6 separate regions of the Homo sapiens genome follow, and regions 2, 3, 4, 5 and 6 are each linked to region 1. Evidence: fine-mapped expression QTL. A gene starts in region 1. Each other region holds a variant in brackets. All regions are shown on one strand. Distances are between the middles of the regions.

Region 1 (5,140 bases):
CAGGATCGCACCACTGCACTCTAGCCTGGGCAATAGAGTAAGACTCCATCTCAATGACAACAACAAAAAAAATCACATGCAATATTTAAACTTCTGGGGCCAGTAACCTATTTGGGAATCCAGTGTAAGCTAAGGCTCCCCTCCCAGCAAACCCACATTCTGAAATCAGATACTCCTCAAAGTTTGCACAAGATCTGAGATGGTTCAGGGACTCCCCACTGCCAAGTCCACATGCGGGCTCCAGGTAATGAACCCCAGGACTCCGAGAAGCCAAGGAAGCTCATGGCTTATCTTACTTAGTGAGACCTCCCTGGGTTGACATCTCGCCTCTCAGCTGCTACAGGGCTCCAGGCCCCCTAGTCATTTTCAGAAGGGTTTGCAATGAAGAGAGGAAGGGGCTGCTGAGCCCAGTGGCCTGGGGCATCGCCAGCTCTGGACCTGGGTCTTCTCTAGGAAGAAGCCTCAGCCCCCACCCACAGTGGGGTGTATATGACCCCCTAGTTCTCTAATGGGTGCTGCTGGCAGACCCAGGCCCCTCAGGCAAGCTGTTTTTGGCCGTTCTCTGAGCTCCTGCTCCATGTTTCTGTTTTTTGGGGTGGATAGGTACCTGCTGGAGTGACTCAGGTCCACAGGGCACTTGTGCTGGCCTGACACACACAGATCTGAGTGCTTCAACCAAACTGGGACTCCTTCCACATTGTTCCCAAATCCAGGAGCAAGCCTCTCTGAACACTTTCTCTGTGCAGAACAGCTCTCAGATGACCAGGAAAGGTGGCGACTCACACATTTGCAACCAGCACCCCTGCAATCACTCTGAGAGGTAGCAGTGGAGGAATCTGTTTACAGATGACAGCATGGAGGCTCAGGGAGGCTGTGTGACCATCCCATTCACTCAACCACCCTTTTATTGAGCACCTGCTATGCACCAGGCATGGTGCTAGGTGCTAGAGAGTAGCTGCCCTTGGAGTCACAGTCCAACAGTGTGGCGAGATTCCTAAACATCATTTCAAACCAATGTGGCAAATGCCATGTAAAAGCCATGGCCCAAGGGTTATGGGGACACATAAACCAACTTGGGGTGTGGAGAGGTCAAGGAAGGCTCTCTAGCACGTGGTTGGTGCAACGTCTTCAAGGACAAGAAGGATAAACTGGGCTCAATGTCATGGGAAGGGACCAGCCTGTTGAAAAAGCACGGTGGCTTGAAACCGCATGGTTTGGACAGTGCTGTGCCAGCAGTCTGGTGTTGTTTGGCATTGCTGGCCAGTAAGCCTAGAGAAAAATGGAGCCCTGGCTGGGCATGGTGGTTCACGCCTATAATCCCAGCACTTTGGAAGGCCAAGACGGGTGGATCACCTGAGGTCAGGAGTTCGAGACCAGCCTGGCCAACATGATGTACTAAAAATACAAAAATTAGCCGGGCGTGGTGGCGGGCACCTGTAATCCCAGCTACTCGGGAAACAGGCAGGAGAAGCGCTTGAACCCGGGAGGCAGAGGTTGCAGTGAGCCAAGATTGCACCACTGCACTCCAGCCTCGGCGACAGAGTGAGACTCCATCTAAAAAAAAAAAGAGAGAGAAAACAAAAAGAAAAAGAAAAATGAAGCCCTTCTCTGACCTGAACACCCGTGGTAAGCAGTGGCAATGGAGAGACTGCTCTCAGAGGACTGACGGGAGGGAGGGGCCAGCTCTGTAACCAGCTTGTTAAGAACAACTGTAACAAGGCATCGAGTGCCAATCCATGCCAGGTCGGCACTGACCTCTCCAGGGTATCACTGTTCACACTGTAAGGAGATTTAAGTAGCTTGTTGAAGGGTGCACCGAGGACCCGACCCTTCCTCGGCTCTCCCTCTGGATACAACGTGAGGTTAGGGGTTGGAGGCTGAGAGGACCCCGTGAACTGCAGAGCAGAGCTGGGACGGGGAGTCAGGCCTCCCGACCGGGCCGGGGGCACTCCCTGGGCCCATGCCTCGCGCTGGCACGGAGAGCGGGGAGGGGGGTACGCGGCTGACGACCGTCGGGGCAGCAGCAGCAGCACAGCCCGGCGTTGGCTAGCGGCCCAGAGTCGGGGCAGGGAGGGTTCCCGTGCGGACGGGGGCTAAGAGGCCGCCTCCAGCCCGGGGCAGTCCGCGCACCCGAGCCTGGAGCCCGGAGCCTGGAGGGGTGGGGAGGCCCCGCGCCCAGGGCCGGACCGGAGGGAGAGGGAGAGCGGTGGCTCCTCCCCCGGCCCCCGCCGCTAGCCGATCGGGGCGCTGGGCGGGCGCCGCGGGAGCCGCAGCCCTTTCCGGGGGGCGGACCCGGCTCCGGCGGCGGCACCCAGCTCCTGCCCCGACAGGTGCGCGCCGCGCGAAGGAATGCAGCCGGTCTGACTCACCAGCGCCTCCTTCCTACCTGCGCGCCCGCCCCATAAAGCGCTGCCCGCCTCGTCCCCACCCCCCCAACCCCCGCGCCCGCCCTCGGACAGTCCCTGCTCGCCCGCGCGCTGCAGCCCCATCTCCTAGCGGCAGCCCAGGCGCGGAGGGAGCGAGTCCGCCCCGAGGTAGGTCCAGGACGGGCGCACAGCAGCAGCCGAGGCTGGCCGGGAGAGGGTGAGTGCCCGCCCCAGCTGGGCAGCCGCGCAGGGGAGCTGGTCGGGCAGGGCCGGTGGCTTTTGTCTCCCCTTCCCCTCCCTGAAGGCTGACAGGCCCCGGTCCCTCTGTCCACGCTGCGCAGGACAGGTGCCCAGCCTCCCCGGGGTGCGCCGGGGGCAGCTGGCAGCCAAGGGGCAGGGCAGCTAGAGAAGGGTGGTGCCCATCAGACCTCCAGGCCAGAGGAGCGCCTTGGGTGCGCCTGCGGGAGAAGTGGGCAGAGGCCAGTGGCTGGTAGCCCTCTGGGGCTGGGCCCCTCCAGGGTTTGCAAAGAAGGTGGAGTAGACACCAGCCTGAGTGCTGGGCCCAGCCCATCATGGCGCATCTAATGATAAACCAACATTCCTGACTTTTATGTGAAATTTCGTTCTTTCTAACATTGGCTCCTACTTTTAAAAGCCACCCTGAGAGGCAGACGCCATCCCGGCTCCAGGCAGGGCTTGCTCTATGCGGTGCCACAGTCCATCTGGGGCTGGGGAGTCCCTGATTTTCCTTTTCTCTTGGCCAAGCACAGGCCTGCCTTCCTCCCAAAGTCAGCCCCAGGCGCCTTCCTTCAGGAAGCTCTACAGGCCTCACCCACCAGCCCCAGGGCTGTGCCCAACACTGCCACCTCCTGCAGCATCCGCCCTCTTTCCCATGGCTCAGCCTCTGGGGTGGCCCTCTGGCTGGGACTGGGGCTCTGGGGCTCCTGGTGACTCCCAGGAGCAGGGACAGGGCTTCTCCTCTGCCCCCATGGCCTTGCCACACCCTGAGGACAAGGACCAGGCACAGGTGGCATGGTTGTTGCTGTCCGAAACAGAGCTGGCAGTGAAGGCTTGGAGTCTCCATCCTGGGGGCTGAGGGAAGGACAGCAGGAGGGACAGGAGGGGAGGTATGTCTGTCTACTCGACCCTGATTTCTCAGGGAGACAGAACAGCCAAGGGCCTGGGGTCCCCAGACTTCTGGCCAGCTGCCTCTCTGGGGCGAGGAAGGGCCTGGGTCCCTGAGGGGAGGAGATGTGACAGCGGGAGAGGATAGTGGACAGGAGCAGGTGTGCCCAGAGGGGTCCCCAGGGGTTGGGATGGGGGCCAGGGGAGCTCTGAGCCTGTGGGTGGGTGGGCATGGCCTGTGTGTGTGTGTGTGTGTGTGTGTGTGTGTGTGTCCCTGTGGGGGGGAAACTGCCTGTGCTGCAGTGTGATGGCATTCAGGGTGGCAGTCACACACTCCAGGGACCTGCTGGTACATAAAGTCGGGGCAGCCTGGTGGGGTCCGGGCCGCCTGGAGAGTAGGTGTCCTGAGCGCTGGGCCCAGCCCATCGTGATACATCTAATGATAAACACAAATTCCTAACTTTTATGGGAAATCTCGTTGTTTCTAACATTGGCTCCTACTTTTAAAACTTTCTAAACAAATGAAGCCAAACACTCTTGGGTGCCTCGCCAACCCTCTAACTGCCATTTTGTAGCTTCTGCGTGGAGGCTGCCATGGAGGTTAAAGGCAGGGCCTGCAGAGCAGGGCCCTGTCCTGGCCCTCCCAGTGCTGTCCGCGGGATGGGGAAGTTCCACAGCCTTCTGTGCCTGGTCTCTCATCTGGGAAACGGGCAGAATGAAATCATCTCCCGCCGGGCTCCTGTGCTGAGCAATCTCCTCCGTGAAGCCCTGGGCTCATATGGCAGTCACAGTGTGGGAATCAGCACTGCCTGAGGGGCTGTGGCCAGGGACAGTGGGAGGAAGAGCTGGGCTCAGCTCTCCAGGCCTGTACCTGCCTGTGTAATGATGCCTGGGAGGCCTGAGCCTGCAGCCTGTATTGTGTAGCATGTGGGTGTGGCGGCTACACCCCGAGGCTGCAAGGAAGTCATTTCCCTCTAGGAACCCTGCTGTCCCCACCCTTTCCCTGCTGGCTCAGGGCTGCCTCCCAGTCCCTGTGCCACAACAGGTCTGACCTGCATGTGTTGGCGCTGCTGTGGCCTCCTCCAGGCTGCACGCCTTAGAAGCAGGCTACGCCTTCCTGCCCTTGGCCTGAGAAGGGCTTCTCCAGCACCTCGGGGACCCCAGCCCCCAGACCCTGGGGTGGCCACTGCCCCAGAAGCCGGGCTGAGACAGGATTCAATGGGGAGGGCCCGTGGGCAGGGCAGAGGCTTGGGCCCCTGGGAGACCTGGCCCTAGAGAAAGAGGCGCGGTGCTCACCTTTGCCCCGGCCTTGCAGGCCTGGATGGCTCTGCCGCCAGCCTCTTTTCTTGTCCAGGCTTCAGGCTGAGCATCTCTTAGAGGGCCTCAGGGATGTCCAGTCCTGCCCTGAAGGCCGCTGAGGACTTAGGATGGTTTAATACTGAACCCACAGCCGCTGGGGACGCCTTGAGGGGAGCCACAGTGTGTGTGCATGTCTCACTCTGGGCTAACTTGTGAAAGGGTGAACAGCTCAGGGGCCCAGAAAACTTAACTCTGGGGCAGGCAGAGGTACAGGGGAGGGCAGATGATTCAGACCCCACCCTGATGGGCCGGGCAGTCACTGCAGAACCCAACCCGGTGCAGTAAGCCAC
Region 2 (5,000 bases), 68 kb before region 1:
CTGAGATCATGCCACTGCACTCCGTCTCAAAAACAAAAAAAAGTAACAAGGGAGAAAAATATTAAATGACAGTAATAAAGCCATTTACAAAAGTGTCCCCAAACCTGACTATGTATCATAACCCCCAGACTACTGAACTGAATTTTCTGGGATGAGCTTTTGAGAGTTTCCGAAAAGCTTCTCAGGAGGTTCTCATGCAAAGGGCCCACAGACTGGCATTTAGGAAGCGCTATATAATATCACCTATTTTAATAATAGTAAATACACGCACAAATGTTGTGAACTTAACAAATATGAACACATATACTTCTGTGTATATTGGAGGGAGATATATTAAAAGGTTAAGTGACTCTTCTTGATAAGCTTAAAACATGAATTTAAAATACAATTTAAAACCTGTAATCCCAGCACTTTGGGAGACTGAGGTGGGCGGATCACCTGGGGTCAAGAGTTCGAGACCGGCCTTGCCAACATGTTGAAACTCCATCTCTACTAAAAATACAAAAATTAGCCAGGCATGGTGGTGCATGTCTGTGATCCCAGGTACTCAGGAGGCTGAGGCAGGAGAATCACTTGAACCCGGGAGGCAGAGGCTGCAGTGAGCTGAGATCGTGGCACTGCACTCCAGCCTGGGCAACAGAGCAAGACTCCATCTCAAATAAAATAATAAAATAAAATAAAATAATGCTTGACCTGCCGACTCAGAAACCCATGTGGGGTGGGGGTGGGCAGCTGCCAGCTACACCAGGAGAGCAAGATTCCCAAGCCCTTCAGTTGGCACCCAAGGGGCCAGTGTGCACCACTTGGATCACACAACCAGAAAACAGGAGGACCCCAAAGGTTTCCTGAGTCTCTACTTACCAGGGAGGCTGTGTGCGGCCCTGCCAGCTCATGCCTGAGCACAGCATCCCAGATGGGGCAGAGCAGGGTACGGCTGGGCAGGGGAGGTGGGCTCTGGAAGGTGCTAATGGTAGCAGACAGGGTGTTGCCTCCTGCCTGCAGGTAGGGAGCACCCTGAATGAGCGGGCTGAGCTGGGCTGGTCACCAGGCCTGGACCCACAGCTCCTTTGGCTATGGACTAATATCAGAGGAGTGGCTTATGGGAAGTGGATAGCAGGAAGCGCTGAGGCCTGGCTCCTGAGCGCAGGGTAAAGCTGGGGGAAGGAGATGGTACTGTGAAGGCAGATAAAGGGGCAAGAGCCTCAGGTTTCTGTCCCCCACCCCACTTCCCTGGGGCTTTCCAAACCAAAGCCTGCAACTAACTTAAAAGGAAGAAAAAGCACTTAAGTTACCAACAACTACCAAACTCCCCCAAAGCCCCTCTCACAAAATCCAAACTGTTTTCTCATCTCCACTCCTGCCTCCCCCACACAATATAGTTTCCTGTTTTCTTTTTAAAATGTTGCCTGCCACCTCTCCACCTGGGAAACCCAAGGCATGACTGCCGGTTGCTGGTGACAGGCACACAGCAGGCAGAGCCCCATCTTTGGTGGTGGGGCGGAGGGAGGTGGGGGCACCAGTCCCTGCCACATCCTCAATCCGCAGACACTCATCAGCCAGCCTTCCCTTTGGCTCCCACTAGAGGGGAGTAGGGCAATAGCAGGTGGTCCCCACAGCTGAGCAACAACAGCTCCAGGCCTTCCCACCAGGAAGACCTCTGCACCCTTATCCAATTCAAAGTACAGGCTCACCTTGGGCCAGGAACCACTATTAGGTAAGGAATGGGCACTATACATTTCAAATGTGGACACCTGGTCAGGGCAGTGGAACTCTAAAGATGGCAGCCAACTTCCTTCCTTGCCCATTCCTGGAGGTAATTCCCCTCTTAGTGACCGAAGCTCTGGTGCAGCTCTGCTCAGAGACCGTTCCTGGCTTCACTCTGTTATAAGCCTGTCTATGGACTTGTGGCTGAATCAACTAGCAGAATACTGAGCATTTGTGAGTGATGTGATTATTCATCAGCGGCCTTTTTTGTGTACATGTCTATTTGCCAACATATCCTTTTAAAATACTGTGAATTATTTAATACAGAAAAGGAAAAAAAGAGCCCGGGCATGGTGGCTTATGCCTGTAATCCCAGAACTTTGGGAGGCTGAGGTAGGTGGATCACTTGAGGTCAGGAGTTCGAGACCAGCCTGGCCAATGTGGTGAAACCTGTCTCTACTAAAAATACAAAAATTAGCCAGGCGTGGTGGTGGGCGCCTGTAATCCCAGTTACTTGGGGGGCTGAGGCATGAAAATTGCTTGAACCTGGGAGATGGAGAATGCAGTGAGCTGAGATTGCACCACTGCACTCCAGCCTGCACGACAAAGACTGTCTGAAAAACAAAACAAAACAAAACAAAACAAAAAAAAA[A/C]CCCCAAAAAAACAAAAACCAGACACTGATATCTGAGACATCATCTATTGAGTTTCTGCTTTGGGCAGGTAACTCATCCCCACCAATACACACAAATACACACAGATTCTGTACCCCCAACTTCCCAATATGTTTACAACACAATTTCTTATTAAATCCATATTTTCCTTATTATGACTATGTCAACAGAGTTCACAGCTAAACCGAAGTGATTGCATTTTTATATTTCCTGTGATCACATTTCCTTTCTTGTGTAACTGTGTTTCCCCTGAAATAGCTTTGTTTTTCTCCATTTACTTAGATTTCAGTATGTTATTAATTCACCCCTAACTGTCCTAACATAATGAACAATTCATTTCGATAGGAGCCAGAGATGCCAGCTTCCACTTTGATGTTTAGAACCTTCCTTCCTGGAGTCTTCTGCCCCCTAGTGCAATCTGGACCAGTTTTCCCTAGGCCTGGGACACAGCTGTCTTTCCGGACTACTCTCCAATATTGTCCTGTGCCAAGACTTACTCCTGGGTAAGTTTCCATCTTTGCTTTCTAGGTTTACTGCCTCTCTACAATGGAGAACATCCTTTAATAGCTTCTGAGACATGACATACCAGGGGAAAGTTTTTGAAACCTTTGTTATCTGAAGATGTCTTTTTTTTCCTTCAAGTTTCCACATACAGCATTGCATTTTTATTTGTTTATTTATTTATTTTTTTGGAGACAGAGTCTTGCTCTGTCACCCAGTCTGGAGTGCAGTGGCATGATCATAACTCACTGCAGCCTTGAATTCCTAGGCTCAAGCAATCCTCCCAGCTCAGCATCCTGAGTAGCTAGAACTACAGGCGCACATCACCATGCTCAGCTAATTTTTTTTATTATTATTAGTTTTTGAAACAGGGTCTCACTCTGTTACCCAGGTTGGAGTGCAATGGTATGATCTCAGCTCACTGCAGCCTTGACCTCCTGGACTCAAGTGATCCTCCCACCTCAGCCTCTTGCGTAGCTGGAACTACAGGTGCATACCACTACACCCAGCTAATTTTTAAATATTTTGTAGAGATAAAGTCTTGTTACATTGCCCAAACTACTCAAACTCCTGGCCTCAAGAGATCCTCCCATGTCATTCTCCCGAAGTGTTGGGATTACAAGCATGAGCCACCTCACCCAGCCTAACATTTTTAAACATGTCATTTGATAAATTTTTCTGGGAACTTTCTTTTCATATTATTTGCTTTTCATATCCTTTGTTCAAGCGATTTTCCTACTTCAGCCTCCCGAGTAACTGGGATTACAGGAGCCCGCCACCACGCGCGGCTAATTTTTGTATTTTTAGTAGAGACGGGGTTTCACCATGTTGGCCGGCTGGTCTCGAACTACTGGCCTCAAGTGATCCGCTCGCCTTGGCCTCCCAAAGTGCTGGGATTACAAGCATGAGCCCCTGCGCCTGGCCTTTTTTTTTTTGAGACAGAGTCTCGCTCTATCACCCAGGCTGGAGTGCAGTGGTGCAATCTGGGCTCACTGCAAGCTCCGCCTTCCGGGTTCATGCCATTCTCCTGCCTCAGCCTCCCGAGTAGCTGGGACTACAGGCGCCCGCCACGACGCCCAGCTAATATTTTTGTATTTTTAATAGAGATGGGGTTTCACCATGTTAGCCAGGATGGTCTTGATCTCCTGACCTCGTGATCTGCCCACCTCGTCCTCCCAAAGTGCTGGGATTACAGGCGTGAGCCACCGCACCTGGCCTTTTTAATTTTTATTTTTATTTTGAGACAGGGTCTCACTTTGTCGCCCAGGCTGGAGTGCGTCCTCCACTCCATGGTATGATCTCAGCTTACCGCAACCTCAACCTCCTAGGTTCAAGTGATTCTCCCACCTCAGCCTTCCCAGTAGCTGGGACTACAGGTGTGTGCCACCATGCTTGGCTAATTTTTGTATTTTTTTTGTTAGAGACGGGCTTCACTATGTTGGGCCGGATGGTCCTGAACTCCTAACCTCAGGTGATCTGCCTGCCTTGGCCTCCCAAAGTGCTGGGATTACAGGCAAGAGCCACTGCTCCTGGCCCCAGAGCTTGTTTTCTCTTGGTGAGATTTTAGTTTTCTTCATCTAAATCAGTGGTTGTCAACCCTGGCCATATATTCAAAGCAACTGGGGAGCTTTTTTTGGTTTATTTTGAGACCGACTTTCACTCTTGTTGCCCAGGCTGGAATGCAATGGCGCGATCTCGGCTCACCACAACCTCCACCTCGTGGGTTCAAGTCATTCTCCTGCTTCAGCCTCTTCCAAGTAGCTGGGATTACAGGCATGCGCCACCACACCTGGCTAATTTTGCATTTTTTTAGTAGAGACGGGGTTTCTCCATGTTGGTCAGGCTGGTCTCAAACTCCCGACCTCAGGTGATCTGCCCGCCTCAGCCTCCCAAAGTGCTGGGATTACAGGCGTGAGCCACCGCACCCAGCCTACTGGGGAGCTTTTTGAAAAAAACTCGTGTTAACAGCTTGTAACACTTATTCCTAAGTATTTTATAAGTTTTATTGTTGTAAATTAAGTTTTTTTTTTGTTTCTATTTCTAGGTATTTATGGTAATGTGGAGAAAAGCTACTGATTTTTTTTTTCCTTGGCTCTCATCTGACTAGAGAAAAGCTACTGATCT
Region 3 (5,140 bases), 33 kb after region 1:
TAAAAATAAATAAATAAAAAGGATTATTTTATACATTATTTTATCTAGCAGCCCGAGATCAGAGGTGCCTAGCAGAACAGTTATTTCTCCAGTCCTGGAAGGGAGGCAGGGTGGGCAACCCCTATGCGTGCCCTTGCCTTGTGTGGAGGCACCGTGGATATATGGGTAGAGGTGACATCGAGGCCAACTTGAGTCCAGCCCTGGCTCTGCCACTTACTCAGCAGAGTCCCTTGGAGGACTGGTGACATATGTCCACGCCAGTCATGCTGACGCTCAGGGCTCCGCAGGCGGCAATTCAGCAGTGGCTGGCTTTGCCTTGCTTCCCCAGCCCCTGGGTGCCATCCAGGGGATGCACGGCCGTCCTGCTGTGTCAGGGGTGGTGTTGGGACCAGGCTGGGACCTGGGTGACCCTCTGAAGCACTCTCTCTGCCCCAGGACCTATTGGGCCCATGAAGAAAGTGCTGGTTGACAACCCTAAGAACCGGATGCTGCTTATTGAGAACCTTCGGGAGTCCCAGCCCTACCGCTACACGGTGAAGGCGCGCAACGGGGCCGGCTGGGGGCCTGAGCGGGAGGCCATCATCAACCTGGCCACCCAGCCCAAGAGGCCCATGTCCAGTGAGTGGTGGGCAGGGAGGTGAGGGGCAGACCGGGCAGGGGGGCAGGGGGCAGCAGCCAGGGCCCTGGCTCACTCCCCTGCCCTGCAGTCCCCATCATCCCTGACATCCCTATCGTGGACGCCCAGAGCGGGGAGGACTACGACAGCTTCCTTATGTACAGCGATGACGTTCTACGCTCTCCATCGGGCAGCCAGAGGCCCAGCGTCTCCGATGACACTGGTGAGTGGAGACCTGGGACCCACAAGAGGACAGTGGGGGTCTTGGGTACAGAGTGAGTCCACTGGGTCCAGAGAGGGCAAAGGGGCCAGCAACTAGAGGACATGGAGGTTAAGGCAGCCTTGGACAAATGCAATGGAGTGCACATCTGTGCATGGGGCACAGGAACCAGTGCCTGGGGGACAGACACACACAGCCTTGTGCAAGCGCACATGAGTTCATGCCCACGGGACCACGAAGAAACACAGCTTCACAAGTTGAAGGTTCACCAGCTGTGCCATGCACACAGGACACTCAGGCCACCCCCCAGGGGCAGGCCTGGCCCAGGAGCCCTGGGCAGCCACCAGGCGGCCACCTGGCAGGGGTAGGGGAGCCAAGGAGACAAGAACACCCCCAACAGCTCTGTCCTTCCTCCTTGATTCCCAGCACAAAGTGCTGCGGAGCCCTTAGCTGGGCCTCCTGAGTGCTCAGTGTCAGCTGTGGCTCCACCTGTGGGACATCAGATGAATCACTCATCCTTTCCATGCCTCACTTTTCTGCTCTGTATAATGGGATACCAATCACACAGTACCATGAGTGGAAAAACCTCTGGGGCACGTATATCTTTTGTATTTTCTTCTGTCCCTGCCGATGCCTCAAGCTGCCCCCGGTGAACACATACTGGCCCCCACGGGGCTCAGCTTGGGCTTAAGGAGCCATTTTGAGGGGTTCAGGTGGAGCGCAGCTGGTGTGACTCTGGAACCCCAGCTCAGCTGCTTCTAACACTACCTGCGAAGCGCTCGGTGGCTTGCGGAACGGTCCCTGGGAGGCGGGCAGGGGCAAGATTCCTCTCTCCATTGTACAAACGGGAAACTGAGTCTCGGAGAGGTTAAGTAAAGCAAGGGAGACCTCACAGCTGGTGACAGAGCCCAGACTTCCCCCAGGTTTCTGGCGGGTCCGGGGGTCTCTCCTCCCCAGCTGTGCCGAGGCTGCACTCGCTCATCTGGAAAGGCTTCAGCCGCGCAAGGGTTTCACCTGCCGCGGCCTTCCCGCTCCGGCCGTGCGCATCTACCCCCGCCCCCAACACACACCCCGGGATCCCGGGAGCTGGAGACGGGCTCCCCTCGCAGAGCCTACGGCCTTCCCCCGCCTGGCCCTGCTCGGCCCGGCGCCCCCCGGCGGTGCCAACGCGGCCCTTCGTTGTTCCCAAGGCTGCGGCTGGAAGTTCGAGCCCCTGCTGGGGGAGGAGCTGGACCTGCGGCGCGTCACGTGGCGGCTGCCCCCGGAGCTCATCCCGCGCCTGTCGGCCAGCAGCGGGCGCTCCTCCGACGCCGAGGCGCCCCACGGGCCCCCGGACGACGGCGGCGCGGGCGGGAAGGGCGGCAGCCTGCCCCGCAGTGCGACACCCGGGCCCCCCGGAGGTGACAGGCTCACCCGCCGCCCCCCGATCCGCGCCCACCCAGCCTCACTCGCGCCTGAGGGCCTGGGGTGGGCGTCTGCGCTGCCTCGGGGGCCCCAGTTTCAGCCAGGCCCGGGCCTTGGCGGCTGGGAGCACAGCTGCTCAGAGGCAGGGCCCAGTGCCAGGGGACGCGTGAGGCAGGCGCTTGGGCCCTTATGGTGCCTGCCTGGCCAGGGGGTGCAAATTCAGAAGTCTGCCCGGGAAGCGGACCCTGGCACCCAAGTAGACCCCTCAGGGGCCTCAAAGGACAGGAGGGAAGGCTTGGGGATCTCCCCAGGGCAGAGCTGACTGCAGACGCAGCAAACCCCCGCCACTGCCAGGGTCAGCAGTGCTCACACCGATAGAGTGGCCGGCCAGAGGATATGGGCTGTGGAAGCCTGGGTGGCCCTTGGGCTCCTGCAGGGACAGAGGGCCTCTGTCCCTAGTGGTTTGAGGGAAACTGGTTGTATTTAAGCAAAAGCCACCCAGAGGGTGGGTGACCAGGAATGTGCAGGGCCCAGCCTGCCCCACGGGGCCCGGGTCTGGGGCAGGCCTGACCAAGGGACCCTGCTCTCCCCCTGCAGAGCACCTGGTGAATGGCCGGATGGACTTTGCCTTCCCGGGCAGCACCAACTCCCTGCACAGGATGACCACGACCAGTGCTGCTGCCTATGGCACCCACCTGAGCCCACACGTGCCCCACCGCGTGCTAAGCACATCCTCCACCCTCACACGGGACTACAACTCACTGACCCGCTCAGAACACTCACACTCGACCACACTGCC[C/G]AGGGACTACTCCACCCTCACCTCCGTCTCCTCCCACGGTGAGTGACCTCAGCCAACCCTGCCTCTCCCACTAACCCTTCCTCTCTTCCAGCTCCTGGAGCCTCGGGCTTCTGTCTGCTGTCCCCACCGCCCATTCTCCAACATACACACACGCATGCACACATGCACGCACACACGTGCACACGCATGCACACATGTACACAGACATGCATGCGCACACGTACACACATGCATGCACACTCCCTGCTCCTCTCACTCTTGTTTTGTCCTGCCCTAGGCCTCCCTCCCATCTGGGAACACGGGAGGAGCAGGCTTCCGCTGTCCTGGGCCCTGGGGTCCCGGAGTCGGGCTCAGATGAAAGGGTTCCCCCCTTCCAGGGGCCCACGAGACTCTATAATCCTGGCTGGGAGGCCAGCAGCGCCCTCCTGGGGCCCAGGTAGTACAGGGGTGGCCATCCTGTCTCCACAGCTGTCCTGCTCCATCTGTCATCCAGCCACCATAGCAGCCGCCAGCTGTGCCCACTGCTTCCCCTCCATTCCATCCACAGGACCCCCGCCTGCCCACAGGCGCTAACCACCTGCCCTACCATCAGTGCTGATGCCTAACTCTGCCTCTGCCCTCCCAGGGGGCGGGGCTGGGGCTGGGGCAGGAGAGGGGCCAGGCCAGCTGAGCAGTTGAGGGGGTGGGGCTGGCAGACTCACGGGGCTCACTCTCTTTTGGCACAAGCAGGGCCTGCACCCTGCTGGAGGATGTGCGGTAGGTGCTGGGCAGCCTGGACAGGGTGTTGCAGGGTGAGTGAGTTGTCCAGCCAGCGGTCAGTGTAGACATGCCAGCTGAGGGAGGGAGGTCAGGGGGCAGCACTGTGACTCCCACTGAGACCCTAGCCCCTGCATCTCTGGCTGACTGCGGCCTCCTGTCCCCAGACTCTCGCCTGACTGCTGGTGTGCCCGACACGCCCACCCGCCTGGTGTTCTCTGCCCTGGGGCCCACATCTCTCAGAGTGAGCTGGCAGGAGCCGCGGTGCGAGCGGCCGCTGCAGGGCTACAGTGTGGAGTACCAGCTGCTGAACGGCGGTGAGGCATGGTGGCTGCCAGGCTGCGGGGTGCAGCCCTGCAAGGCCTGGCCCCAGTGTGACACATAGGGTACCTCAGCTGTGTCAGGAACCCACCCAAGTCCCTTGAGCGCTAAAGCCCCCATCCAGCCTGAGAGGGTCTCCCACCCCATTCTCCACCCCACTTCTTTGCCTCCCCTCTTCTGAGGTCTCACCCACCTCCCTGGGCCTCTCTCCTGGTCATTCTCTGCTAGGTTTTGCCTAACAAGGCCCCTTTGGGCTGGGATCCTAGGGCCTCTGCTGGCCTGAGATGCCTTTGGGGGAACAAGGAAGTGGCACTTCCCTGGGCAGGCACATTCAAAGCAGCATGACCAGGATGCAGGATGTTGCCTAAACATGAGTGGGATTACAGGCTCCACTCTTGTATAGTACACAATCTGAACAACCAGCCATACCATACTGTACCCAACCTGTACCCAAACCACAGCTAGTCCTGGGTGGGTGATAACTAGGTCTCGATGGCAGCTTAGGGACGAGGAGGATCAGGCCAGGGGTGGGAGTAACACTGCACTACTGTGTGCCCCCACCTGATCCCCCCAGGTGAGCTGCATCGGCTCAACATCCCCAACCCTGCCCAGACCTCGGTGGTGGTGGAAGACCTCCTGCCCAACCACTCCTACGTGTTCCGCGTGCGGGCCCAGAGCCAGGAAGGCTGGGGCCGAGAGCGTGAGGGTGTCATCACCATTGAATCCCAGGTGCACCCGCAGAGCCCACTGTGTCCCCTGCCAGGTGAGTTGCCTCCCCCAGCCCCAGAGCTGCCCCCATCATGCCCACCACCCACCCACAGGCTGATGCTCTTCCTCTACTGCCCCCAGGCTCCGCCTTCACTTTGAGCACTCCCAGTGCCCCAGGCCCGCTGGTGTTCACTGCCCTGAGCCCAGACTCGCTGCAGCTGAGCTGGGAGCGGCCACGGAGGCCCAATGGGGATATCGTCGGCTACCTGGTGACCTGTGAGATGGCCCAAGGAGGAGGTGCTGCCCACCCCGGGGG
Region 4 (5,000 bases), 91 kb before region 1:
TAAAAAAAAAAAAAAAAGAGAGCAGGACCCTGCCCTGACCCCCAGAGCAACCCACGGCCATGACCCAACGGCAAGGCAGGCCCCAGGGAGGACGGGCGTGGGGCTGGCCCTAGGCCCACTGTGTTCTGGGGCTCAAACTCCCTGCCTCCCACCCCCACTACACCCACATACCCCAGGCATGGGAGAAGGCAGAGCCCACTCACTCCCCCTACCTTGGAAGCAAACTTGCCCTCCTTGTAGAAAGGGGTGAGGCACTTGACCACAACATTTGCAGCCTCCTTCAAGGAGACGCCAGGAGCGGAGAGCTGGAAGGGGTCTTGAGCCGTGGGATTCAAGGTGCCCTGTTCGCTGGCCGAGACGCTGCCCTTGACCTCAGCTACGACGGAGGGCTTGGCTGAGGGGCGTGGCCTCTTCTGAGGCTGGCTCTCTGGGTTCTCCTGAGAAGGGCCACAGCAGAGGGTCACTCCTGAGCTCCCTTCCACTGGCCTGCTCCCCTCCTCCAGAAGACTGGGTCCCCGCACCAGCTGCCTCTCTCCAGCCCAGCCCATCTGCTGCCAGGTGTGGAAAGAAAGCTGATTTTCCCTGACCCCTTGAGCAGGGCACAACAGCTCCTGGCCTCGCCCACAGCCCTTCTCTCCTCCCCAACAGACTCATCCCTGCCGGCACCTGCTGGGATCGAGGCCGCTTGCCCTTCCATGTGTCCTTTGCAGGGGTGGGCTGGACTTCAGGGGTGCCCTGGTCTCTGGGCGGGCAGGTGCTGGTAGAGGGAAGAGCAGGCATCACAGCACTGGGTCCTGGTGGCTCCCTCATCCCAGGAGGCCTAGGAGAGCCCATCTCAGGGGTGAGCTCTGAGCTTCAGACGCCCAGTGAGCAAAGGGGATGCTGCCGTGTAGGTTCCAGAAGATTCTATGACTACCTGTACCCTTACCTTGGCCTCTCCCTGAGGCACTCCTCAGTCTGGGGAGGGGCAGGCGAATGTCCCCCGGCTCCATCTTCCTCCCCTGTGTACTTCTCTGGGGCCATCGGGGGTCCCTGAACCCCCTCACAGGAGGGGCAGGCACCTTCTGCCTCTGGGGCTGATGCCAGCAGAGCTGGGCTTTCCACCCTTCGGCAGAAGAAGCGGGCGATGCTCTGAGAATCCTTGTGGGCCGCTGTGGCTAGGAGCTGCTGTTTCTTGCTAGCCCGGCCCTTGGCAAGGGAGCTGCCCCCAGAGGAACTTTTTGCCTTCTTCTCAGGGGAGGGCCCCCCATAGTGAGCGCTGCCTCCAGGGACCTCCCCTCTGGGCCCAGGGAGGGGCTCACTCCCATCCTCATCCAGGAGGCCACAGGGCCGGCTCGGGGGCTCGTGCTCGCCTCCCCGCTCGGGCTGGGGGGCTTGCTCCCTGATCCGAGTTGTCTCCATCAGTTCCGTGGCCGTCTGGAACGGGCAGGAGCCTTTGGGGAAACCAGCTCCCACCCGCTTGGGTTTGAGCTGTAAATGTGAGCAGGAGGAGAGGAGGTTCAGCCCACTAGGCCCCCTTGAGGGCACCGCTGGCTGGAGCAGTAACTCACATTGGGACGGGGCTCTCAGGAGTGTGGGAGGGAAGAGGCAGGCAGGACCCTGGTGGGGAGCCAGGCCTTGGCAAGAGGTGCACCCCTGAGGGCAGAGGGGAAGTGAAGCCTTTCCTGGTCACAGGTCTGGAGGCCACTGGGCCACAGCTCACCGAGTACACATGGGAGGCTGGTGGAATGTCATACTCATTGGGCTCCGGGGGCTCAGCTTGGGCACTGCAGCTCTTGGCACTGCCTCCCATGTCATAGGGCTGCCCATCCTTGGAGGCTCTGTGGATATCGGCCACCTGGGCAGGGATAGGCAGGGAGGCTGTGGCACCCGCCAGCTCCTCCTGACATGCCCCACCTAGCCCTCCTTTTCTACTAGGCACTACAAGTGGGTTTCTGTGGCCAGTGGCCACAGGCAACTGACCACTGGGCAAGTTTTAGGCCTCCCATCCTCACAGGGTTGGCTAGAAACATGTCCAGCCAGTGGAGAATGGAGCTCTACCCCCATAAACTGTCTCTGGGGTGGGCTGGGGAGGGTGAGTTCTGGGCTGCCTGAGCCCAGAGAGCTGGCAGACAGCTTCTGCGTCAGAGTATGGAGGGGCCCCTGCAACGACCCTGGGTCCGCCTGCACCAGGCCCACCTTCTTCAGCACGCTGGCCTTGTAGAGGTTGGCCACCTTGGCGTTCCGGAATGTCTCATGTTCCAGCTCCACGGCCTTGGCCCGGAGGTCAGCTCTGTGGGTGCAAGGTAACAGGCACAAGGTATCAGGTGGGCCTGGGCTTCTCCCTGCTGAGCTCTTGCGGGACTCCAGGCCTGGTGGGGTAGGCCTTGGGCACAGGGATTCTGATTAGGGCTCTCTGAGCACCCTGTGGCTTACTGTCCCTCAGCAGCTGCTGGTAGCACCTAAGTTGTAGCCATGCCTGGCCCTGGTGGGGTTGTAGGGGCAGTCCCCTGGAGTAGGAGAGGTACAATCTGGGGAGAGGTGGCCCAAACAGGCCAGGGTTGACAGGGTCCTGCAGTCTCCAAGGGAACGAGAGCTTGGAGTGCTCCTCAGCCCAGTGATCGTGGAACTCACTCATCAGCGGTACGTGTTGACTGGCGGTTGCTGCTCAGCGCCTCCTCCAGAAGCCGCAGGCAGTGCTCCCGTGCCTGGCACAGGACAGTGAGACTGGTCGCATGGCCTCGCGGCTGGGGGAGGGCCCCGGCGGGTGGCTGAGGAGCTGCCCGTCTCTTACCTTCACAGTCAGCCTGGGGATCCTCCTGCTAGAAGCCTCTTTCAGGGGACAGTTCTCATCTGTGGGGGGGGGGGGTGGTCCTTGGTCCTTTCGCTCCACCTTCTGCGCTCTGAGGTCCCCCACA[G/C]CCCGGATGAGAATCCTCCCTCCATGCCCCGGGAAGAGCCCACAAGCCTCCAGGAACATTTCTGTACTGACCTGGGGGTACAAATTCTTCTATCTTGGGGTCTTTGCCCTGGAGGACAACATGAAGGACCCATGAGGCGTCCTGCCCTGCCGCAGGACAGTCCCATCCAGCACCAGAGAAGGGGCTGAGAGGTGCGAGCAGGGGGCCACCAGGGGCCCCACACAGGCCACTGAGTGCCTCCCCTCACCTTGCGCAGCTGCATCTGCTTCTGATAGAAGAGGTTCCACTCCCGCTTGTGGGCCTCATCTCTGCCTTCATCCCCGCTGCCTCCAGAACCTTCGTCATACCTAGGGACAGGCCAGGCGTGAGTGGCCCTGGCCTGGGCTCTGCCCTCCCCATGTGTGCTGCTGCTAGAACGGCAATGTCCCTGATGTCCTACCAGCTCAAGGGGGGATTGCGGCATCGTGCCACCTCTGGTCTGGCCCTGGCGCCAAGGGAATGCCAGGCAATTCCAGCGGGTTGGAGCCCTGGCTTCTCGGCCCCTTACCTGCTGAAGTCCCCGTAGCCCTTGCGGCCTCCCTCATACAGCTCGGGGTCAAAGCCGTTCCCCTGGGAGGGCCCGATGCAGGTCTTGCTCCAGCTGCTGCTGCGCTCCAAGGCCTCCAGCCGCCTCCGCACGGCCGTGGGGTTCTGGCAGTGGTCGCAGCCTTTGGCGCAGGCAGGCAGCGCATCCCCGAAGTACTTGGCAATGGCGGCATGGCGGCACCTGGAGCAGGCAGCACCGCAGAGGTGAGGGGCGGAGAGCCCAGTCGGCCAGCGTCTGTTCACCCGAGCCTGAATCGCTAGCTGAGCGAGCACTGCCGCGTCCGGCACCATGCCGGGAGCCCCACACCCCTCATCTCATCCAAGCTGCACCAGGCATCGTTTGGCTCTCCCCACTACACAGATGAGGACGATAAGGTGAACCAACTTTCCCAAGGTCACGTAACACATGGGGGTCTCCCGGGAAGCAGGATGTGAACCCCACTCTGTCCAGTTACTCCTCTGCTCCTCCCCTCTGTCCTCTGGCAATGGGATGTAGATGCTGGCTCTGCCATGAAGGGTGTCTTTTGGGTGACACACTTCACCTCCTAAAGCCCATGCATTCCCGTCAGTAAGATGGTGCAGAAAGGCACAGCCCTCACGGACTGAGCGAAGATGGCTGAGGTGATGTCTGAAGTGCATTACAGTACAGTCATGCCCCATGGAATGACTGCACAGCCAATGGTGGTCCCCTACGATTCTAACACTGTATTTCTACTGTACTTTTTCTATGCTTATGTGTGCTTAGATATGTGAATACCACTGTGTTACAACTGCATACGGTACTCAGGACAGTAACGTGATGTACAGGTTTGTGGTCTAGGAGCAACAAGCTGTAGCGCATGGCCTGGGTGTGTAGGAGGCTGTGCCGCTTGATATTTTTTTCCTTCTCTTCCCTGGAATTGCTGTTTGATTTCCCTAAGTATACTCTGTGACCGCACAATGACAAGTTAAATTTCTCAAAACGTATTTGCATTGCTAAGGCAGGCACGGCTGTGTAGTAATATGTCCCATCATCAACCCGTGAGGGTGTCACAGGTGGGGCCTTTAGCCAGGGAGACGCAGCCTCGCCTGGAGTCCTCCTCTCGTCTTCCTCTGTCTCAACCCTGCTGCAGCCCTCCTGGGGTGAGCGGCCTCTGCCCATGCTGGGAGCAGGGAGCAGCCTCTGGCTGGCCCACGAGGCTCTGTCGCATCTCTGTTCCCTCTGCATGGGGGTGGCTGTCGACCCTTGGGGCAGCTGCAGAGGCCGCAAGAGGGGCCATAGCTCTCTCAGGCTCCTTATAAACAGCCATTCCTGCCACCAGGAACGTGGCACAGGGTAGGGAAGCCCAAGAGGAGATGCTGGAACACAGGCAGGGCTGTCTGGGGTGCCACATCCCAGGGACAAGAATAGCTGGCATTAACTGCTCTAACTAGAACTCCTCCCAGTGTGAGCACTGCTGCGGCTGCAAGAAGCCCTTTGAGGGGCTGCGACCCCAAGGCGCAGGCTCAAGGATGCAAGGCTGATTGCAACACCCCGGT
Region 5 (5,000 bases), 120 kb before region 1:
GTTGATGTCCAGCTGAGCTGGGCTGGTGGCTGCCTCAGAAGGGAGGGGGCAGCTACTAGGAGCAGCAGCCTCACCCCAGGGCTCTGTGGACCTCCTTAGCCTGTGATGGCCTTGGCAATGGGGATGGCCTGGTTGGGGGACTGAGCAAAAGGCAGGCAGTAGGGATGGGTGTTCCCAGCCTTGAGTCAGATCCTGAGAAGCTCCAGGGCGGGGCACGTTCTGTCTCTGCCATCTGGAAACCTACCAGCTACAGCAATTGTCACCTCCAACAAGAACCCCTGAGCCCGGAAGCTGGGTGAGAGGAACCTCCAGGTACAACTCTCCACCCAGCACAGACCAGGTCTGCTGATCTGTGCCATTCCCTGATGCACTGTGGCATCCCGTGACCACAGACTGTCACCCACATCCCCAGAACCTGCACGGTGCTTGCTTGGTACAGACTAACTACTGAGTGTCCATTAAGCCAAACTGGTACCACCATCTGGACCTGTGAAATGTCCTTCAACACTCCCCCACCCACCCCTTCCTGCCACGCCCCTCCCTCCCTTCCACGTCCCTCCCTCCCACGCCCCTCCCTCCCTTCCATGCCCCTCCCTTCCACACCCCTCCCTCCCTCCCTCCCACAAACTTGTCTTGAGACCTACTGTGTTGGGTGGCGAGGAGACGAAGGCCTTGGGAACCACATTCCTGTTGCTCCCGTGGCCCAGAACCAGCCCTCATGCCTCCTGCGCACACCATGTTCACCTGTTCTCCCCCTGAGCTCCAGCGCAGAGACCCTCCCTGCCCAAGTTCACTGCAGTGTCTCAGCCCCCAGCTGAGCGCCTGGCATAGAGCAGGCACTTTCCAAATTTTTTAATGATCTAGAAATGAAATAAATACTGAGGGGCTCAGGGTGTCGTACAGCAAGTGTGAAAGGGCTTGGGTGCAGTGGCTCACGCCTGTAATCCCAGCACTTTGGGAGGCCAAGGCAGGCAGATCACCTGAGGTCAGGAGATTGAGACCAGCTGACCAATATAGAGAAACCCCGTCTCTACTAAAAATACAAAATCAGCTGGGCGTGGTGTTGCATGCCAGTAATCCCAGCTACTCGGGAGGCTGAGGCAAGAGGATCACTTGAACCTGGGAGGTGGAGATTGTGGTGAGCTGAGATTGCACCATTGCACTCCAGCCTGGACAATGAGAATGAAACTCTGTCTCAAAAAAAAAAACCAAAAAGGCCGGGCGCAGTGGCTCACGCCTGTAATCCCAGCACTTTGGGAGGCCGAGGCGGGCAGATCACGAGGTCAGGAGATCGAGACCATCCTGGCTAACACGGTGAAACCCTGTCTCTACTAAAAATACAAAAAATTAGCCGGGTGCGGTGGCGGGCACCTGTAGTCCCAGCTACTAGGGAGGCTGAGGCAGGGGAATGGCCTGAACCCGGGAGGCGGAGCTTGCAGTGAGCCGAGATCGCGCCACTGTACTCCCGCCTGGGCAAAAGAGCGAGACTCCGTCTTAAAAAAAAAAAAAAAAGTGTAAAAGGAGGTTCTGGCTATTCTGATCTCAGCTCCATCCTTGGAGCAGCTTCCAGGCCCTGGGGTCAGAAGGGCAGGAAGACCTCTCTGACCGGGAGAAGTGTGGTGCCGTCCTGAGCCAGGTGCTGGGGGCCGAATCACCTCTCTATCACCTTGGAGCCACCAAGGTGGGTGTGTGTATCCCTGTGTGCAGAGGGCAGCATGAATGGGAAAGGAGAGGTGCATTCTGGGCCCAAAGGGACAAACCCAGGATTTGGGGATCCATCCAAGTGGTGGGAGACAGAAGGGCTGGACGGCAGGGCCAGAAGAACAAATGGTTTGGCTGGAAGGGAGGAGGCTGAGACCAGAGGAGGAGAGCAGGAGGGGCTGGCTCCTGGCTCCTGCCTACAGCCCACCCCTCTACCCACAGGTCCTGCTGCAGGAGCAGGGCTGGCAGCGGCTGGAGGAGCTCCGGGACCAGCAGCGCTCCCAGGCCCTGGTCGACCTGCACCGCAGCTTCCACACCTGCATCTCCCGCCAGCGCGTCCTGCCCCGGATGCAGGCTCGCATGCGTGGGTTCCAGGCCAGGTCTGCAGGCGTTGGAGCCAGGGCTGAAGTGGGTGGGGTGAGGCCGTGGGTTCGTCCTCCAGGTGGTGGGGCAGGGTTGGGGAAACATAGGGCCTCAAGGCAAGTCATCCTGCCCCAGTGCCATCTCATCGGCATGTGACTCTCCTTGACGGCATTACCCCCCATACCCGTGCAGCCTCTGCTTGAATACCCCGGCCACAAGAAACTCATTACCTACTGAGGCCACCTGAACCTGTGGTCCTGACTCCTTTATCATTCTCTTTTCTGGTCTGTTTTCCACACTGTGGGAACAATCTTTGTTTTTTTTTTTGAGTTGGAGTTTTGCTCTTGTTACCCAGGCTGGAGTGCAGTGGCGCGATCTCAGCTCACTGCAACCTCTGCCCCCTGGGTTCA[A/G]GTGATTCGCCTGCCTCAGCCTCCCGAGTAGCTGGGATTACAGGCTTGTGCCACCACACTCAGCTAATTTTTTTTTGAGATGGAGTTTCACTCTTGTTGCCCAGGCTGGAGTGTAATGGTGCGATCTCGGGTCACTGCAACCTCCACCTAACAGGTTCAAGTGATTCTCCTGCCTCAGCCTCCTGAGTAGCTGGGATTACAGGCATATGCCACCACGCCTGGCTAATTTTGTATTTTTAGTAGAGACGGGGTTTCTCCATGTTGGTCAGGCTGGTCTCGAACTCCCGACCTCAGGTGATCCGCCCGCCTCAGCCTCCCAAAATGCTGGGATTACAGGTGTGAGCCACCGTGCCCAGCTACAGTCATCTTTTCAAAGCATGAATCATGTTGTTAAGGACCTGACTACCTCCCCAGCCCAATTTAGGCCAGACTTTTACCCTGCAGTGACTTTAGACTTCTCTTTCCTATAACACCACCCTCCCACTTCTCACCTAATCATCTCTTTTTCGCCCTCACAGCCTGTCTTCACACATTCCTCCAACAGCTGTTGGCTGACCGTCTGCCTCATCTACCCTTGGGCCAGATGCTGGTGACAGAGCTGGGGATGCCAGAGACGGGGCCTCCCAGGCTGGTTGGGAAGTCAGATTCAGATGGTAGAGCAGCCAGTGATCTTCCCAGAGAGTAACTCGAGGGCTGAGAATGAAGTGAAGACAGTGCAGAACATCGGGGGAGCCAGGCATCTCCACTATCTATTTCCAACACGTTTTCATCCCGCAAACAGAAACTCTGGACCCATTAAGCAGTAACTATTGCCCCCAAGACCCCCAGCCCCTGGTAACTTTCAGTCTACTTGAGTCTCTATGAAGTTGCCCATTCTAGATACTTCCTGTAAGTTGACTCATACAATATTTCCTTTTACGACTGGCTTCTTTCACTTAACATAATGTTTCAAAGTTCATCCATGTTGTAGCATGTGTCAGAAATTCATTCAGTTCCAGGCTTGAGGGTTAATAATTAATTATTATTATTATTATTATTATTATTATTATTATTTGAGATGGAGTCTTGCTCTGTTGCCCAGGCTGGAATGCAGTGGCTCGATCTCGGCTCACTGCAACCTCTGCCTGCCAGGTTCAAGCAATTCTCCTGCCTCAGTCTCCTGAGTAACTGGGATTACAGGCACCCACCACCCGCCACCACGCCCGGCTAATTTTTCATATTTTCAGTAGAGACGGGGTTTCACCATGTTGGCCAGGCTGGTCTTGAACTCCTGTCTTCTGAGTCGATCCACCCGCCTCAGCCTCTCAAAGTGCTGGGATTACAGGCGTGAGCCACTGCACCCGGCCTGTTCTAGTCTGTTTACAAATCTTTGGGGTATAGGCCAAGGAGTGAAAGTGCTGGTAATTCTATCATATGGTAATTCTATGTTTAACTTTCTGAGGAGCTGCCAAATTGCTTTCCATAGTGGCTGCATCATTTTATGTTTCTACCAGCAATGTACAAGGGTTCCAGTTTCTCTACATCCTTGCCAGTACTTATTCTTTTCCATTTTTAAAATCATAGCCCTGCTAGTGGGTGTGAAGTGGCATCTCATTATGGCTTTGATGTGCATTTCTCTAGGACTAATGACGTTGAGCATCTCAGACATTAGTGCCACTCCTTTGGAGAAATGTCTGTTTCTCCTCTGCCCGTTTTTAGTTTTTAATTAATTAATTAATTTTTGAGACAGAATCTCGCTCTGTCACCCAGGCTGGAGTGCAGTGGCGCCATCTCAGCTCACTGCAACCTCTGCCCCCTGGATTCAAGCCATTCTCCTGCCTCAGCCTCCCGAGTAGCTGGGATTACAGGCACCTGCCACCATGCCCAGTTAATTTTTGTGTTTTTAGTGGAGATGGGGTTTTACTATGTTGGCCAGGCTGGTCTCGAACTCCTGACCTCAGGTGATCCACCTCAGGTGATCAGCCTCCCAAAGTACTGGGATTACAGGCATGAGCCACTGCACCCGGCCTTTATTTTTTATAATTATTATTTTTTATTAAAAAAATTTTTTTGAGACAGAGTCTTGCTATATCATCCAAGTTGGAGTGCAGCTGGGTCACACCTGTAATCCCAGCTCCTCAGGAGGCTGAGGCACGAGAATCACTTGAACCTGGGAGGCGGAGATTCAAGTGAGCCGAGATCGCGCCATTGCACTCCAGCAGCAGCATGATCTCAGCTCACTGCAACCTCCAGCTACTGGTTTCAAGTGATTTCGTGCCTCAGCCTCTGGAGTAGCTGGGATTACGGGCATAGGCCACCAAGCCCGGCTAATTTTGTTGTTGTTGTTGTTTTTCTTTTGAGATGGAGTCTCGCTCTGTTGCCCAGGCTGGAGTGCAATGGCTTGGTCTCAGCTCAATACAACCTCCGCCTCCTGGGTTCAAGCGATTCTCCTGCCTCAGCCTATGAAGTAGCTGGGACTACAGGCACCTGCCACCATGCTCAGCTAATTTTTGTATTTTTAGTAGAGACAGAGTTTCACTATGTTGG
Region 6 (5,140 bases), 37 kb before region 1:
CATGATGCTAACCATACGACCATTTTTTTTTTTTTGAGACGGAGTTTCACTCTTGTTGCCCAGGCTGGAGTGCAGTGGCGTGATCTCAGCTCACTGCAGTCTCCACCTCCTTGGTTCAAGCGATTCTCCTGCCTCAGCCTCTCGAGTAGCTGGGATTACAGGTGTGCACCACCACACCCGGCTAATTTTGTATTTTTCAGTAGAGATGGGGTTTCTCCATGTTGGTCAGGCTGGTCTTGAACTCCTGACCTCAGGTGATACACCTGCCTCGGCCTCCCAAAGTGCTGGGATTACAAGCGTGAGCTGGGATTACGGGTGCAAGCCACTGCACCCGGCCTCATACAGCCATTTTTATTCTTCTTTTATGTTTGCCTATAATAACATATGTTTTGCATCCAGCTTTGTCTCTATCTATATATAAACATTTTCAATGTTGCTGTACTGTATAATTATAATAGCAATATGACACAAATGAACAGTTAAAAACAAACACTGAAGAATTGTATGGCATATGAGGCTGGGCGCAGTGGCTCATGCCTGTAATCCCAGCACTTTGGGAGGCCAAGGCGGGCGAATCACGAGGTCAGGATATCAAGACCATCCTGGCCAACATAGTGAAACCCCCATCTCTACTAAAAATACAAAAATTAGCCAGACATGGTGGCACGTGCCTGTAATCCCAGCTACTCAGGAGGCTGAGGCAGGAGAATCACTTGAAGCAGGGAGTCGGAGGTTGCGGTGAGCTGAGATCACGCCACTGCACTCTAGCCTGGTGACACGGTGAGACTTCGTCTCAAAAAAAAAAAAAAAAAAGAATTGTATGGTATAGGAGTTATATCTCAATAAAGCTGCTGTAAGAAAAATTTATTTTATTTATTTATTTATTTATTTTTTTTGAGACAGAGTCTCACTCTGTCGCCCAGGCTGGAGTGCAGTGGTGCGATCTCAGCTCACTGCAACCTCCCTCCTGGGGTTCAAGCAATTCTTCTGCCTCAGCCTCCCCAATAGCTGGGACTACAGGTGCACACCACCACGCCTGGCCAATTTTTGTATTTTTTTTAGTAGAGCTGGGATTTCACCATGTTGGCCAAGCTGGTCTCGGACTCCTGACCTCAAATGATCTGCCTGCCTCAGCCTCCCAAAGTGCTGGGATTACAAGCATGAACCATGGTGCTTGGTAAAAAATAATAATAATAATAATAATTTTTTAAATATTCCAAATGGAGATTTTTTTAAAAACCCATTGAGATCTACCAACTTTTGTTCTAGTAGTGACACCAGTCCTTAGCCCCACAGATTTTCACATCATTTCCCTCATTCTCATATTTTCTTCAGCTATATAAGTTAAATCCAGAAATAAGCACGTTACACTAGCAAAATCTGAATAGGTTTTTATAATTGAATGCTATGTCTGCAGTTTCCCTCTAATGAAGTTCTCTGGTGAACAGGAAATGGGCCATGTGCTTTACTTGGGTCAGAAGGAATAACTCGTTCTTTAAGCTCGTGTTCTTATTGGAAGTCCACATGGTTGTTCCCCCAGGAAGGGAGAAGAGCTGGGTAGAGTTCAGGATTTGGTAGCATTTTTTCTGTGAGTCCCCAGGAAGTCTCTAGGCTAAGGACAGGGAGGTAGCACCCACGGTTTGTGTGATTAAGCCTGCAGGACCAACCCTTTCAAACAAGTTAACTCAGATGTGACTCACTGGGGCCCCATGGACTCTAGAGCTGTTTCCCCTGATCGTCATAGGTGAAAGATAATAATTCTGGCTGTCTTCCCTTAAGTCCAGGGTTTTAATACCTGCTTCACTCTGACCTGCTAGAGAATCATTCCTGGAGGGGTGCTTTTCCTTCTTGGTCTTCACTGTTGGCTTACCCAGTGGTTGAACCAACAGCTTCCTAGAAACCGCTACCCTTTGCAGCCTCTTAGTCTAGAGGGAGAAGGTGGGAAGTTGGGAATAACTGGATAACTGGGCTTTTGAGCCAAACAGATTTGGCCTTGAATTTCAACATTGCCATTTATTGGGTGAGCTGCTTCATTGTGTTTTACCTCAGTTTACTCGTGTGCAAAATGGAAATAATAATGTCTACCTCATAGGGTTATTGTGAGACTTGAATAGTGTAGGTTAGCTTGTAGTGGGTTCTACGTTTAGGGTGTCATGTGGGGTGCTATGTGAGTGGGAGAGTATATGCTTCATCCTTCCATCCTGTTTTATTAGTCCACCTGCCCCTGTGTTCTATCTCCCATACCCTGTAATCTTTTGAGTGCTGATTAGAAGGGAACAAAATTACAGTATGACTCACCCAGGACCAGAGAAGGAAATGGCCCTTGACCATTGCTGGTTTGTGAGCCATCCACCACCCTTCTCTTGGAAGTTGTAATGTGGGCCTTGAACTATTGAGAATGCCCAAGCCTACGTAGCATTCGGCACTTCCCTGCGCTCAACACGATGGATGGTCTTCTTTAGGCTTTTCCTCAACAACACTAGGGTTGCCTTGCACAGCTGGGAGACATGGAATTTCCAGAAGCTCGTGGAGTGGCTGTGCTGGGAAGAACCTACCCCAGCCTGAGGTCTAGGGTTCTGGGGGTTCTAGGGGCCTGCTGGGTGATAACCGGATCTGAGCAGGAGTCAGAAAGGCAGGCAGGCCATGAAAGTCACTCTTCAATTGTCGCAAGGGAAGGAAATCCAAGCCTGCTTTGGCTTTGTCCTGCCACCTTCCAAGGAAGGCCTCACTACATCATAAGCTGAACACTGCTGGTAGAAGCGCTGGTAGTTGTTGGAAGTTGTGATCTCATGCAAAGGGGAACAATGACCATTATTCTCCCTCTGACCCCTCCTTGGCTCCATTGCACTGCCAGAGGGGCCTTCTTGATGGCAGTTGATCCAAGTAACCTGAAGCTGAGACTCCCAGAAGCCCCACCTCACTCCTGTGGTTCCACAGCCCACAGGGAGCCACCGCGTGTCTGGTACACCCTCCCATCAGCCGTGCAAGCCCCAACATACCTCCTTCCCTTCGGGCCAGATGCCATGGATTGCTAACTGAGGTGTGGCTGGGCCCCTCCTTCCCCATCTGGGACTCATTT[C/T]TTTGAAATTATATGATACAGAGGACTGCCTGTCCTTAGGGATCCAGCACTTCCGACCTTCGTTCTGTATTTTCATCCATGTCTCCTGAAATGCTGCTGTGTGATTTCTGGGTTCAATAGGATTTTGCTCATTTCTATTCCTAACTTTGGAGTTAGGTAAATATTTTCTGGGCTGTGCTTCAAAGATGCTTGCCTTCTTTTTGGCCCTCTAAGTAACTCAGTCCCCTTCCTACCGGTGTCGATGATGACCAGTTTGCATTTCTGTCACCCTGACTTTCAGGGACTGCGAGTATATTTGCCTGAGATGTTGATGTAACTAACTCCTCAGCTTGTCGGCCAGCCTCTCAGATGGAATGCTTTTGTAATTTGGTAGCCATGTAGAGTTGTGTGCCTTCCAGACTTGCATTCTCAACCTCACAAAGCTGTCTCTTTTGTCCTTGTCTGTCTCCAGGCTCCCCCCAACCCCCCAAATATATCAACCTAAAGCACAGAGATACTGTTCTTGTGGGAAGCCTTGAAGGGAAAAAGCCTGTCCTGGCCTCACCACCAAGAGCTTGACTCAGATCCTTGGTGTGAGGCAAACTCTGGACCTAGATACACCCGTTCCTGACACTCTGGGGATAAGACAAAAAGGGAATGGCCCTCTCTGACCATCTTCTGTAACTTTCAAGAAACCAAAAATCTTGAAGTGTCTTGAATCAAATGTAGATTGTACTTGGAATAGTCGGATAACAAAAGTCCCCCTTGGAAATAGCTCCCTGCATTTACATTGAAGTCTAGTTGGTTGTAACATGTTCCATGTAACAACATCAGGAGCCGTGCTGAGTCACGTGGGCTTTGTAAATTTAGCCAGATTTTTCAAATAGAGAAACTGTTTCCCTTCCTCCTCCCTACCTTGTCTTCAGTCTACAAGGCCAATTCTATAGCCGGCTTAATAAGTCTTGGCAAACTCCTGTTTCACCCATTCCTATAGAAACCTTCTGTGGTTGGGGCCGGGCGCAGTGGCTCACGCCTGTAATCTCAGCACTTTGGGAGGCTGAGGCAGGCAGATCACGAGGTCAGGAGATCGAGACCATCCTGGCTAACGAGGTGAAACCCCGTCTCTACTAAAAATACAAAAATTAGCCAGGCGTGGTGGCGGGCGCCTATAGTCCCAGCTACTCTGGAGGTTGAGGAAGGAGAATGGCGTGAACCCTGGAGGCGGAGCTTGCAGTGAGCCGAGATTGCGCCACTGCACTCCAGCCTGGGCAACAGAGCGGGACTCCATCTCAGGAAAAAGAAAAAAAAAAAGAAAGAAAAAAAGAAACCTTCTGTGGTTGGGAGCAGAGCCTTCCCATCAGCAAGTGGTCTAAGCAAAGGCAACCCCAGCGTGTCCCAGAGGGCCCCACCAACTTCCGCCCATTTTTCTGATAAATTGAGTGTTTCCATTCCCAGGCAGGCAGTGTGCCCACGGCAGTGGCTCAGTCCTGGCCGACAGGATACAACTAAAGGAAATGTGCTAGCAATGGGCTTTCTCCAGGGCTCTCCAGTGGGGGTGGCTGGCATCTGGCCTCTGGGGTGGGATGTTCCCATGCAGCATTGGGTTTGGAGGCTTTGCTGAGCTGTTGACAGCTCTCACTCCTAGCCCCCAACCATGTCTCTGTCAAACCAACATCATTTTATTCTGGAACTTGGAGGTATTTTATAAAGGTAATCCAGCATTGTTGCTTTCTTGGCAACCTGAAGTGACTCACATTGATCTCAGAAAACCTTGTTTTGACTATTACTTTGATGCCTCCACAAGAGGGTTTCTGGAGGATGGCATAGCAGTTGTTCTGAAGCAGCTGTATTGCCTGATGGTTAAGAGCACAGTTTCATGGGACTGTTGTGAAAAATGAGATTCTTAATTGAAGAGCTTAGCATAATACCTAAACTTATTCCCCTAGATTGAGTTTTCATATTTTATCCTCAATGCTTGGCCCATTGCTTGGTGTATAAATCATGCTCAATAAATTATCTGTGGAAAAAATAAATGAATTAACTATACAGTAATTATTTTTGTCTTAGGATTTAGGAGCATTA

What was found.
Region 2: its variant is fine-mapped to the expression of ITGB4 in whole blood (TOPMed, PIP 0.97).
Region 3: its variant is fine-mapped to the expression of ITGB4 in T cells (TOPMed, PIP 0.98).
Region 4: its variant is fine-mapped to the expression of ITGB4 in whole blood (TOPMed, PIP 0.98).
Region 5: its variant is fine-mapped to the expression of ITGB4 in whole blood (TOPMed, PIP 0.91).
Region 6: its variant is fine-mapped to the expression of ITGB4 in whole blood (TOPMed, PIP 0.98).

Annotation. Positions count from the first base shown.
Region 1 is chr17:75,719,030-75,724,169 of GRCh38, forward strand. ITGB4 (integrin subunit beta 4) reads left to right here and starts at 2,430. Exons shown (of 40, transcript NM_000213.5): 1 at 2,430-2,583. RefSeq lists silencers at 1,993-2,052, 2,063-2,452 and enhancers at 2,173-2,711, 2,712-3,250, 4,165-4,716.
Region 2 is chr17:75,651,571-75,656,570 of GRCh38, forward strand. All of the region lies in intron 7 of RECQL5 (RecQ like helicase 5), which reads right to left. It overlaps LOC107985013 (a long non-coding RNA gene), which reads left to right. Exons shown (of 3, transcript XR_001753017.1): 2 at 2,721-2,878. Among named protein-coding and RNA genes, the nearest start is that of ERLN, 7.8 kb to the left of the region's middle. The variant A/C (reference allele first, on the strand shown) is at 2,357.
Region 3 is chr17:75,751,739-75,756,878 of GRCh38, forward strand. It overlaps ITGB4 (integrin subunit beta 4), which reads left to right. Exons shown (of 40, transcript NM_000213.5): 31 at 436-618; 32 at 708-839; 33 at 2,027-2,236; 34 at 2,838-3,077; 35 at 3,963-4,112; 36 at 4,691-4,879; 37 at 4,966-5,121. It also overlaps a transcript of GALK1 not described here. Among named protein-coding and RNA genes, the nearest start is that of GALK1, 11 kb to the right of the region's middle. RefSeq lists silencers at 1,832-2,441, 3,649-3,818 and an enhancer at 2,029-2,802. The variant C/G (reference allele first, on the strand shown) is at 3,040.
Region 4 is chr17:75,628,006-75,633,005 of GRCh38, forward strand. It overlaps RECQL5 (RecQ like helicase 5), which reads right to left. Exons shown (of 20, transcript NM_004259.7): 9 at 3,445-3,663; 10 at 3,145-3,244; 11 at 2,969-3,005; 12 at 2,774-2,832; 13 at 2,614-2,687; 14 at 2,179-2,272; 15 at 1,703-1,837; 16 at 929-1,470; 17 at 667-757; 18 at 213-437. Among named protein-coding and RNA genes, the nearest start is that of SMIM5, 2.9 kb to the right of the region's middle. RefSeq lists an enhancer at 4,501-5,000. The variant G/C (reference allele first, on the strand shown) is at 2,898.
Region 5 is chr17:75,603,941-75,608,940 of GRCh38, forward strand. MYO15B (myosin XVB) reads left to right here. Exons shown (of 64, transcript NM_001395058.1): 20 at 1,564-1,681; 21 at 1,924-2,081. Among named protein-coding and RNA genes, the nearest start is that of MYO15B, 19 kb to the left of the region's middle. The variant A/G (reference allele first, on the strand shown) is at 2,475.
Region 6 is chr17:75,682,167-75,687,306 of GRCh38, forward strand. All of the region lies in intron 3 of SAP30BP (SAP30 binding protein), which reads left to right. SAP30BP-AS1 (SAP30BP antisense RNA 1) reads right to left here and starts at 2,633. Exons shown (of 2, transcript NR_186496.1): 1 at 2,299-2,633; 2 at 1,377-1,612. The variant C/T (reference allele first, on the strand shown) is at 3,080.